2 separate regions of the Homo sapiens genome follow, and region 1 is linked to region 2. A link means that fine-mapping ties the variant in region 2 to the expression of a gene that starts in the linked region. Tissue or cell type: whole blood. Region 2 holds a variant in brackets; the other region holds the start of a gene. All regions are shown on one strand. Distances are from middle to middle. Region 1 holds the start of MCPH1-AS1 (MCPH1 antisense RNA 1). Region 2 overlaps MCPH1-AS1 (MCPH1 antisense RNA 1).

Region 1 (5,385 bases), 41 kb before region 2:
AGTCTCAAATTACGTGAAATATAAAAAAGCTTATAAAATTCTTATTACTTATTCTAAAGAAATAAATGGTGAAGAAAGTACCCATTTGAGTTTCAGTACCAATGAGAGATTCTGGAAGGACCTAAAAGGATAAACGAGTTATAAGGAACAATTTTAGCAGCACTGACTGAAATATTTCTCTATCTCAGAGATACATATGAAAATAAAGTAGTGAAATTGGGGAAGAAAAAGGTATTTACCCAGAATCCAAGAAAAATCCAACTAAATTTGTTGGAAGCAGGTTTACCTGCCAAGCACAGATCATAAATCTCATGGACCTACTACTACTTCTCTTCAGCTTAAAAATTCTATGTAAAAGAAAATATTCTTCTGCAAGAACTACTGTGAACCACTTATTTTTTAAACCTAGAGTTGAAAGGTGTAAAAATGTCATTTAAAAAAAATTTTATTTTAAAATGCCTCTTTAATATATATAAATTAATAAACCTTTTATTTAAAAACTTATAACCTCTTAAATTACTAAAACTCCCTTCAGAAATGAGTCAACAATACTTTATACAGAACAAGAGAATCATCACTAGCCTTGCAAACGAAAGCTGATAAAAACAATTCAAGAAAAAAAGAGTGTCCTAACAAAACAAGAAAAGCAAGCTAAAAATTTTAATCAAAACATCTCAGTGACAAAGTTAATGGTACAAAGTCACAGGTAAAAAATAAGGTGACAGAACATCACTATAAATCTTTTTCCTTTGGGTCTTATGTTTGAAGATAGCTATTTATTCCTCTATTGATTTAATCTTAACAGAAACAATAAAAAATATTGAAAGGTAGCTTTGTGTACACAGGAAACCCAGATTGCAGAAAAAGACCCTAATAAATTCAAAATACCCTGCTCTGTTACTAAACAGAAAATAATTATTTGTCCCCTCCATACAATAAAAATAAAAATGCAGGAACAAGAAACTCTTGGTTTTAAATTTTTATTAAATGTTCATAACTTGCATTTGATGATCAGTGGGCAATCAGTTCGTTCTACGACTCCTAAAGAACTTCATCAAGGAACACACATTAAACAAAATTTTGAATTATACTTAAGGGTCCTCAGGCATCCTTTCATAAATGCATGAAAATTAGTGCTGGATGCCACTTCCTTTGATTTGAACAGACGGTGGGGGGAATGATTAGATTAAATGTTTTCAAAATCACTTGCTGGGAAATCAAGAAGTAAATCGGATCTCTGAACATCAGGTAAGGTATGCAATTTCAGAAACACTGCTAGGTTTTACAGCCATTTAAAAAAATAAGAACTTGCCAAACCAAAAAATCCTTCAATGGTGTATTCTGCATCATATTGTGTCCTCTTTGAACAAAAATAACATAACCCGCCACAGATAGAATTATTTTTTTAAGAGGTGAATGACTTTGTGTTCTGAGCTTATATCCCATCCCAGGCCAGTTGTCACATGATGTGGAAGTAAAAACTTAATCATGATAAAAATCATACATTTAGACAAACTTGGTGGAGTTACCATATAAAGGGAAAAAATTAGCCTGAATTATTGAAATTTTTAAATGAGGCCCATTTTAAACGTCAACTACCAGGAAACCATGACCTGGAACAGTATCTTTTTTTCTTTCCAAGGAGACACTTACAGACACTGGTTTAAATGGAGGCCCTGGCCTCTCCTAGTTCCTTCCCCCCAAACAACTTCCAACTGGGGCCATCAAGGGTCGATCAGCAGTGCAACTGCAAACTAAATATAGTACCTGACTGACCACAGGGTAAAAACAGCTGCTGTAGGTGGAAAAAAAAAAAGTTAAAAAGACAAAATGATACCGTCCCATTTCCCCATGCCACCCTAACCCTACCAAGAAAAGTAAAAGAGGACTAGGTGGACATTAGGAATAACCAAGAATAAAGCTGTTCTTTCAAACTGAGAAATAAAAGAAAAATTCACCTTTTTTTTTTTTTTATAACACTTCAAATACCTACTGTTAAAGAGGGCCTTCCACTTTTATGGTTTGTTTCTCAAGTTTAATCTACGAATCCAATCTCTACAGAGAAACAGTAACAGAAAGAAAGTAATCAGACAACAGATCACCCACACATTCAAGCCCAGTTAAAGTTGGCAAGAAATGTATCTAGTTAGGCTTCTACGGTTAACAAATGTATTCATTTCTTCGCCCAGCTTTCACTTGTCCAGGGGAAAGAACACAAGACCGAATTGTACTTCTGTTTCAAGAGGTCACTGTAAAAGCGCACTTCGGAGTGTAGACGTCTCCGATCTGTTCCAACATGACCACCTCTTTGGACCAAAGGCCAGAAACTGCTAAACGCGTGCCCTATTATTTAAAACGTGCATCTGCACCCACTTTGCTAAGCAGCATCAGACCCAGGCGAGGGGCGGGGAAAGGGGCGGCGGGTCCCACTCGTAGCCTCAGGACGACGCAGCCACAGCTTCCTAGAGAGCGATCTCGGCAGAACGGCAGGAAGCATGCGGAGAGGAAGGCGGGGAGGCGGCACGTGCTCTCCGTGCTGGGTCCGCCGGGCCGGCCGGGTGACCCTCGCCAGCTGTGGGGGAGCGGAGAGGTCCGCGCCCCCGGGAGCTCGGGTGGACGCCGAGACCCGGGAGCGGGAGGCGGCTCACCTGGACCCCGGTGTAATTCTCGAAGAAGAAGAGCACCATGCTCTGGTAGACGCAGTAGAGCCGGTCGTCCAGCGCTTGGTAGAAGCGGGCGGGCAGGAAGGCGGAGAGCAGCCGCCAGACCCCCCAGGCCAACACGTAGGTGGGCGCCGTGCCCAGGAGCACGACGCTGGGCAGCAGGTAGCGCATGGAGTACGTGTGGAGCACCAGGGACAGCAGCATCTTCTCAGCTCGGCGGCAGCGAGCTCCGCCTGCGCTCCCCGCCCGCCTCCCGGGCCTCAGTCGCGGCCAGCAGGCGGCCAATCACCGCCCGGGCCCGGGCCGCCGCGCCCGCCACCCGCTCCCAGCCTCCGCCCCCAGCCGCATGGGCCGCGCCGCCGCCCGGGGCCGGGTAGGCGAGTGCGGGGCTGCGTGCGCCGCTCCCGGCGGCAAAGCAAGGGAACCCGCGGCCCTCCCGGATCGATGGCTCAGGGATGCTCACACCCCATGACCCTCACCCATCGCCACATCCCCCTGCCGGGGCAGGGGGCTCCGCGGCAACAACGCGCCTTCTGATTGGTCGCCCGTTGCCATAGTTCCACCTCGGCGGCAATAACACGTCTCTTGATTGGTTGGTTTGGGCCGACAGTTGCAGTACAGCTACCTGCTGGGGCGCGGGCAACCCGGCTCCGGCCACTGCGCATGCTCCCCAGCTGGGCCGGCTGCGGACGCGGGAAGGGAGGTGGTGGCGACTGACGGAACTGGGTGAAGGTGGGTGCTGGCCGGAGGAGGGTCCGGGTGCCTCTTGTTCTGCTCCCTCGGGCCGGACGTGCGCGCGGTCAGGTTTAAGGGTCGCTGGAGCTGCCTGGAACGCGCACCTGCTGCTCACAAGCCCCTGGGCGCCGGGATGCACACAATTAGAGCAGTGAGAAAGTGGGTGTTAACGTTATCGGAGGTCTAATTCTTGCAGGCACCTGGGCCCAGGTTGTAGGCAGCTCGGCCCAGGTCGCGGGGCAGCTCGAGTGTCCCCATCTGCTCACTGCCAGTCCTTTGCAAGGGGACGCCGCCTCCTCAGCCTCCGCTCTGAGTGCGCAGCAGCCCCTCCTGCCCGTCTCTCGCTACCAGGGTGTTTCAGAATTAGGGTCCGTGTTTTTCCCCATCACAGTAATGATGATAATTACATGTTTATGCATAGCTGAAGAACAATCCCACAAGGATATTTCCATACTGTTTATTAGACCTTTTCAGAATTCACTCTTGCTTCATTTCCTCAGAGTCTGTTGGACTTGTTTCTGATTTTTTTTTAATAAGGAGCCTCGTTTTTTTCTGTAGTAATTAAAGTAGTTGCGTGCACATGTGTAATCCATAAAAAGCATACTTTTGTAGCCTTCACTAAAAGCTACGAAGGGTGGATAACTGTTTTATTGATGTTAAAGCAGATCCACAGGACTTTTGGATCTTTCTCCTCCCCTTTGGCTGTGGTAAAAATGGTTTAATATGTAACCCTTTTCAAGGATAGTTGTACTTTAAAAGAATGCCGAATGCTTTACCATATATATATATATATATATATATATATATATATATATATTCCCGCCCCCTCCCCACCACCACCATAATGGGAGCCTGTGCTACCTTTAGGCAGGACGGTATTTCAGTGGGAAGTTCTAATCAGGGCCAGGATGGTAGCTACTTTCTTTATACATGATTAACATCAAATAACAACATCATTGGTAGATGATGACCTTTGGGGACAAAGCCAGGTGAATGGAGATCTCTCAAGTAACAAGTATTTGAAGGCCAGCAGGAAGCATTACACAGTAAAAGGAGCTTCTCTCTTTCTGTGGCTGTCATTGTCCTGTACTGTAAGAAGCACTAGGTTTAGTACTGGTGGAAAAAAGTCACAGGTGTGGACAGTGTGCACAACTAATGCTCCTTATGCTTTCTTTAACTGAGACCAGACATCTCTACACTAGAACAGTGTGCGAAAAGATAAAGCAGGTTCTGTGTTCACGTTAGGATTGCTGTGTATAAAGTCAGTAAATATGTGTTTATGTGTAAATTTGTTGTGAATCACCCCAGATTACTGTTAGTCACGAAGTTGTAAACTTTTGTGCAATGTTTGCCATGAAAACACAGAACTTAACTTTCTCTTGTTCCCTCTTTATCTCCAAACCCAGCTCCTGACTATCAGTTATTGTCTGTCCTGCTCCCGCTCCTCTCTTCCTGCGAACAGTCACAGATCCACCCTCTCTTTCTGCCACTACCCGGCCCTGTTTTTCTGTTTTTTTTTTTTTCCCTTTTTCCGTGCAAACCTCTTAGTTGATAATCAGCCCACACCCTCTGCCTCCTTACCTTGTACTTTTGTTGAGCCCTTGCAGTCTGATGACCTTTTCCTCCCCTTTACTGGAATGGTGCTTCTTTCAGAGCACAGCTGATTTCCTCCTTTGCATACCCTGCTGGGCACCAGTGGAACAGTGAAAGGTGAATTCTGTCTATGCCTTCCTTGTACAACATTTAACAAGGAGTTACCTGTGGGATGAAAAGGGGACATTCTTGGTTCTCTGGGAGCATATATCAAGGCAATCTAATTTAGTCTGGAGACAAGGAAGACTTCTCAGTGAAATGGTATTTCAGGTGAAGCTTGAGGGACTTAGTGGGCTTTCCATGGGAGAATGGCACATTTGAACGCCTGAAGCTGAGAAATCACCATATTCTCATGCATAGCACTGGAGTGGGCCACAGTGTTCTTTTTAAAATT
Region 2 (5,385 bases):
ATGGGGGGCCCTGGCCCACTATGGCCCCTATGTCTGCCCACTGACTGGCTGCCCTGCAGGCCAGTGGGGTTCAGTTATTGCCTGACTGCTTCCTTTTCTTGCTCCCTCTAAAGGGTGTGGGTGGAGCTGCAGAGAGAAGGTGCCTTTCTTGTGGGGAGGCCACAGACCCTCCTCCCAACTCGACACAGTGTCCACCCAATGGGACCAGCTCCTCCCATCTCCACACCCTCCCTCAGGCCAGTAGTCAGTTTAGGAGAAAGTCTAAATGGCCTGGCAAAAAAATGGAGGAGGCCTAGGTTAATTATCCAGGGCCCTGTGGGCTATGTCTTATTGGAAAAAATGGCTAAGAAAAACGGATAATCTACAGCATTTTTTTATCATTTATTTCAAATATACAGCACCTCAATTATGCTATGGATAATAGTTATATAATGGTCAGGCCAGGAAGCCAGTACCCGCTGAGACAGTGTTTCTGTAGAATCCCAAATGCTTGGTTCATTGACTTATATAACACCCTGTAATTTGGGGGCTGTTGGTGTTTTGTAACTGTTGAGATGCAGAAATGAGTGATTTCTTTTGAATTCTTTTACTTCTAGGCAGCAGTCTGTCAACAACTATGGCATCCAGCTGGTCAGAAAGACTAGAGGATTTGACATTTTGCGGCTGTTCTCTAGAACCAAAGAAATGAGAACCTCTTGGTAAAATCCGCTGGTCCAGGAGTTATTATCTCCTGGATTATCTGCCAAAGAAATTATCTGCCAAAATTACAATGTAAAACTGAAGAAGACAACCGATAACTCAGTTAAAATTTTGGAAAAATACAAAGAAACTGTGACTGGGGAGAAATGGTGAGGGAAATTTTCTCGTTGAATTAGAGGATCAGGAGGGCTAAAGGGAGCCCTCATGCTATCAACCAAAATCTCTGTTAAATTCCAAACATAAAATATCTTTTCTCACTGTTAAAATGTCTAAGCAGTCTCCACTAGCAGCCCCCGTCCTGGACACAGGAGCACTGCCCTGCCTGGCCGTCAGGTGCTCCCATAAGCATCATTCAGACAGCGAGGGGGGCAGTGGAGGATTCGGGGGCAGGAGATGGGGTGGTGGAGAGAAGGATGTAACCATCAAAAGTCCATTTTCCCTGCTGAAGCTACCCATGGAACTTTTAAATTGGGTGCAGATTTAAAAATTAATACAAAATATTTGAATAATCGGGGATGTATCAAATGTTCATAAATTACAGCTCCAACTAGGAATGCCTAAGGAACTGTTCCTTCCGTTTAATTGTCCTCTTTGTCTATCAAAAAGACAGCCACTCGCGTGCCTCTTCTAAACAGTCAAATACCATCCTAAGCTCTCATGGAAAATCTCAAGAGGCTTATTGGTTGACTAATTCTAAACCTCTGTTTGCTCAAAGGACAGTGTCAGCTACAATTTTTCATTTGCTTTTGTATTCCATTTATTTTTCTTTACAGCTTTGGGAGATGTGTATTATACTTCTTTTCTTTTAATGATTATCTTGGAAATTGTTTATATATACTTAACAGTCTACAGTGAAGGACTATTTACCATCCTTCTGAATAACACAAAGATTTTAGGACAGTGGTCCCCAGCCTTTTTGGCGCCAGGGACCAGTTTTTCCATGGACCAGGGTGCAGGGGGATGGTTTCAGGATGATTCCAGCACATTACATTTATTGGGCACTTCATTTCTATTATTATTACATTGTAATATATAATGAAATAATTATACAACTCACCATCATATAGAATCAGTGGGTGTCCTGAGCTTGTTTTCCTGCAACTGGATGGTCCTATCTGGGGGTGATGGGAGACAGTGACAGATCAGCAGGCATTAGATTCTCATAAGGAGCATGCAACCTAGATCCCTTGCATGCACAGTTCACAATAGGGTTCACACTCCTATGAGAATCTAATGCCACCGCTGATCTGATGGGAGGTGGAGCTCAGGTGGTAATGTGAGCAGTGGGGAGTAGCTGTAAATACAGATGAAGTTTCGCTCATTTGCCTGCCCACGGCTCCTAACTCTTGCTGTGCAGCCCAGTTCCTAACATATCCGTTGGTGGCCCAGGGGTTGGAGACCTTGTCTTAGAATGGTTTTCCTCCGTTGATCACTGCTTCTAGCTTGTGTGCTACTGGGATACAATATTTTGAATCAATCTCTGTTTTTAACCTCACAGATTGTGTAATTATCAGTATCTGCTTAATATGTATTTAGATTAGTCATATGTTTACCATTTTGTTTAGCTGCCAAACGTCATTGCATTTCAGACTTTCTTTCTGGGAGCGTCTCATTCTTCCTGAAGTACATCATTTAAATGTGCCTTTAAGT[T/G]TGGTGGCAAACAGTCTCAATTTCTGTTTATCTCAAAGTGCCTTTATTCTACCTCATTTTTGGTAGTTTCACTGGATTTGTGATTTTTAAATCTATAATTATTTTCTAGCACATTGAAGGTATTTCACTTTCTTCCATGTTCCATTGTTATTAAAAAGACTCCTGTCAGTCTTATTGACATTCTTTTGTAGATAATCTGTTTTTTCACTATTTTATCTATGTATGAATTTAATCTATTTATGAATTTCATCTATGTATTTCATCATGTATGAATTTAATTTATTTCTCTTGCTTGATATATTATATTGCTTCCTGAACTCTGAAAAATTCTTGGCCATTATTTCTTAGTCTATTAAATATTCTTTAAATACTGCTGTCTTGCTGTTACTCTACTATTTAATTCTGAAACTTAAAATGAATATATGTTGGACTTTATTTTTCATTTTCTTAACTTCTCTTGCGTATTTTTAATTTGTCTTTCTGTTACGCATCCTGAGCAATGTCTTTGGATATAATTTCCAGTTTACAAATTCTCTTTTGAGCTGTGTCTAATGTGTTATTTTTTAAAATTTTTTTCAGAGACAGGGTCTTGCTCTGTTGCCAAGGCTGTAGCACAGTGGTGCCATCATAGCACACTGCAGCCTCTAATTAGCAGATTATGTTTTCATAAAATGTTTTTTATCTTTGACCATTTAAAAATTTGGGAGTTTATCTCTCCTCTCCTTTCCTTTCCTTCCTTCTCTCTCTTCTTTCTTTCTTTTTCTTTCTTTCTCTTTCTTTTTTTCTTTCTTTCTCTCTCTCTTTCCCTCCCTCCCTCCCTCCCTCCCTTCCTCCCTCCCTTCCTCCCTTCTTCCTTCTTTCCATGAGATCTTCCTATGTTGCCTAGGCGTACCACCTATTTACTTACTACCATTGCATAAGTCACTTATCTCTCTCTCCATTTTGATTGTCTGAAGCTTGATGTCGACTAGATTTCTCAGGAAAGACTCAGCAATAATAGTCCCTGAGTTCTGGCATGTTGATAAAAGTTTGTCTTTTATTAATTAGATATAAAATTCTTGTTTCATATATTCTTTCCTTGAGTATGTTAATTATTATATGTTATTTTAATATTGTATATTGTAATAGCATATAATAACATATGATATTTGTATTATTTATTTGTATATATTTGCATTACTGTATATTTGTATTCTGTATGATTTATCTTGTATATAAATATTGTATGTTAAATAAATAATATGCTATTTCATTTTCTCATAGCATAAAGCATTGCTGTCGACAAGCGTGATGATAATTAATTTTTTTTCCTTATACCTTACACACTTGTTTGGGATATCTGTTGTAGACTGAATTGCATCCTACCCAAATTTATAAGTTGAAGCTCTAATCCCTAGTGTGACTGTATGTGGAGACAGAGCTTTTAAGGAGGTAATTAAGGCCATAAGAGGGGCTGGTAATATAATATGATTGGTGTCCTTAAAAGAAAAGGAAGAGACACCAGGAATGCAGGTGCACAGGAAAGGCCATATGAGGACAGGATGAGATGGCCCTTTGCAGCCAAGGAGAGAGGCCATAGAAGAAATCATCCCTGCGAACACGTTGATCTTGGACTTCCAGCCTTCAGAACTGTGAGCAAACAAATTTATCTTGTTTAAGCCACCCAGGCTGTGTATTTTGTTATGCCAGCCCTAGGTAACTAATAAAATGTTCAAAGGATTTTTTTTCTTTTTTTTTTTTAAGTTTGGTAATTTTACCATTTGGGGTCAATATTTTCGAGTGTGTGGTATAATTTTTCAATATGTAGCTTCAAATCCTTTTTTAAATTCAGTGTTAAAAATGTGGTATAGTTCTTGTCGTTTTTAGTATTCAGTCTTCTTCTTTGCATTGGTATCTTCCTCGAGACCTCCTATGTTCTATCTCCTTTGCCTGTCTTCAATATGTTCCACTTTTTCTGACATATTTTTTTTTCACTTCTTTTTTACTTTTAAAACTTTCCTCATTATCAGCTGCATACAGTGGCTCACGCCTATAATCCCAGCACTTTGGGACACCGAGGTGGGCAGAGCACTTGAGATCATGAATTCAAGACCAGCCTGGCCAACATGGTGAAATCCCATATCAACTAAAAATAGAAAAAAAAATTAGCCAGGCGTGGTGGTGCATGCCTGTAATCCCAGCTACTCGGGAGGCTGAAGCAGGAGAATTGGTTGAGCCCAGGAGGTGGAGGTTGCAGAGAGTTGAGGTTGTGCCTCTGCACTCCAGCCTGGGCAACAGAGTGGACTCTGTCTCCAAAACAGACAAACAAACACACAAGAAAACTTTCCTCATTTTCACCCTCTGTTTTTCTTAGGGCATTACATGTTGTGTTTATTTGTTGTTTAGTCTTTGCTCCTAAAATGCATTTTTAAATTTTTTAATTCTTTTCTGATTGCTGTAACAATTCACATACTTTCATGTCTTACATAATTTTCTTAGAGTCTGTTAGCTTGTTCTGAAATAGGTTTTGATCTGTTTTGTGGCTGCAGAGGCAGAAAGGGGGTAATCACTTTCTTCTCCATCATAAAGGTCATACCAGTGCCCCTATAACAAAAGACAGATTAACATGAGAAAAGTATAACACATTTATTTCATCATAGTTTGATGTGATGTGGGAACCTTCAGAATGAAGACCCAAAGATACAGGGTGAACTGTGCATTTCTATACTTAGATTTGATGAAGCACAGCCAGCCATGTCGAAATGTAAGACTGGACAGAAAGGTCCTGATCGAATGTAATAGATGGTGTGGGGAAACTCAGCAAGGCCTCTGCGTTCAGATCTTTCTCAGCCTCTCTGTGCCACATTCCCTCCTCCTGGGCATAGGGTAGGGTCCCTCTACAATGAGGGTCTTAATTTCTTTATTGCCAGCTGTTACACAGAAAAGCAGGGGGAGGCTAGAGTCATATTTTTAGGCTTTATGGCTGGCCTTGAGGCAAAGGGGTTCTGGTTTTTATGACTCACCTCGGGAGAGGAAGAATTCTAGTTTCTATAGCTT

What was found.
Region 1: it holds the start of MCPH1-AS1, and the variant in region 2 is fine-mapped to the expression of MCPH1-AS1 in whole blood (TOPMed, PIP above 0.99).

The regions. Positions count from the first base shown.
Region 1 is chr8:6,706,151-6,711,535 of GRCh38, reverse strand. It overlaps MCPH1-AS1 (MCPH1 antisense RNA 1), which reads left to right and starts at 3,327. Exons shown (of 5, transcript NR_125386.1): 1 at 3,327-3,395. AGPAT5 (1-acylglycerol-3-phosphate O-acyltransferase 5) reads right to left here and starts at 2,894. Exons shown (of 8, transcript NM_018361.5): 1 at 2,649-2,894. The coding sequence starts at 2,867. RefSeq lists silencers at 2,501-2,740, 2,801-3,140.
Region 2 is chr8:6,665,452-6,670,836 of GRCh38, reverse strand. All of the region lies in intron 1 of MCPH1-AS1 (MCPH1 antisense RNA 1), which reads left to right. Among named protein-coding and RNA genes, the nearest start is that of MCPH1-AS1, 40 kb to the left of the region's middle. RefSeq lists enhancers at 4,983-5,032, 5,173-5,272. The variant T/G (reference allele first, on the strand shown) is at 2,350.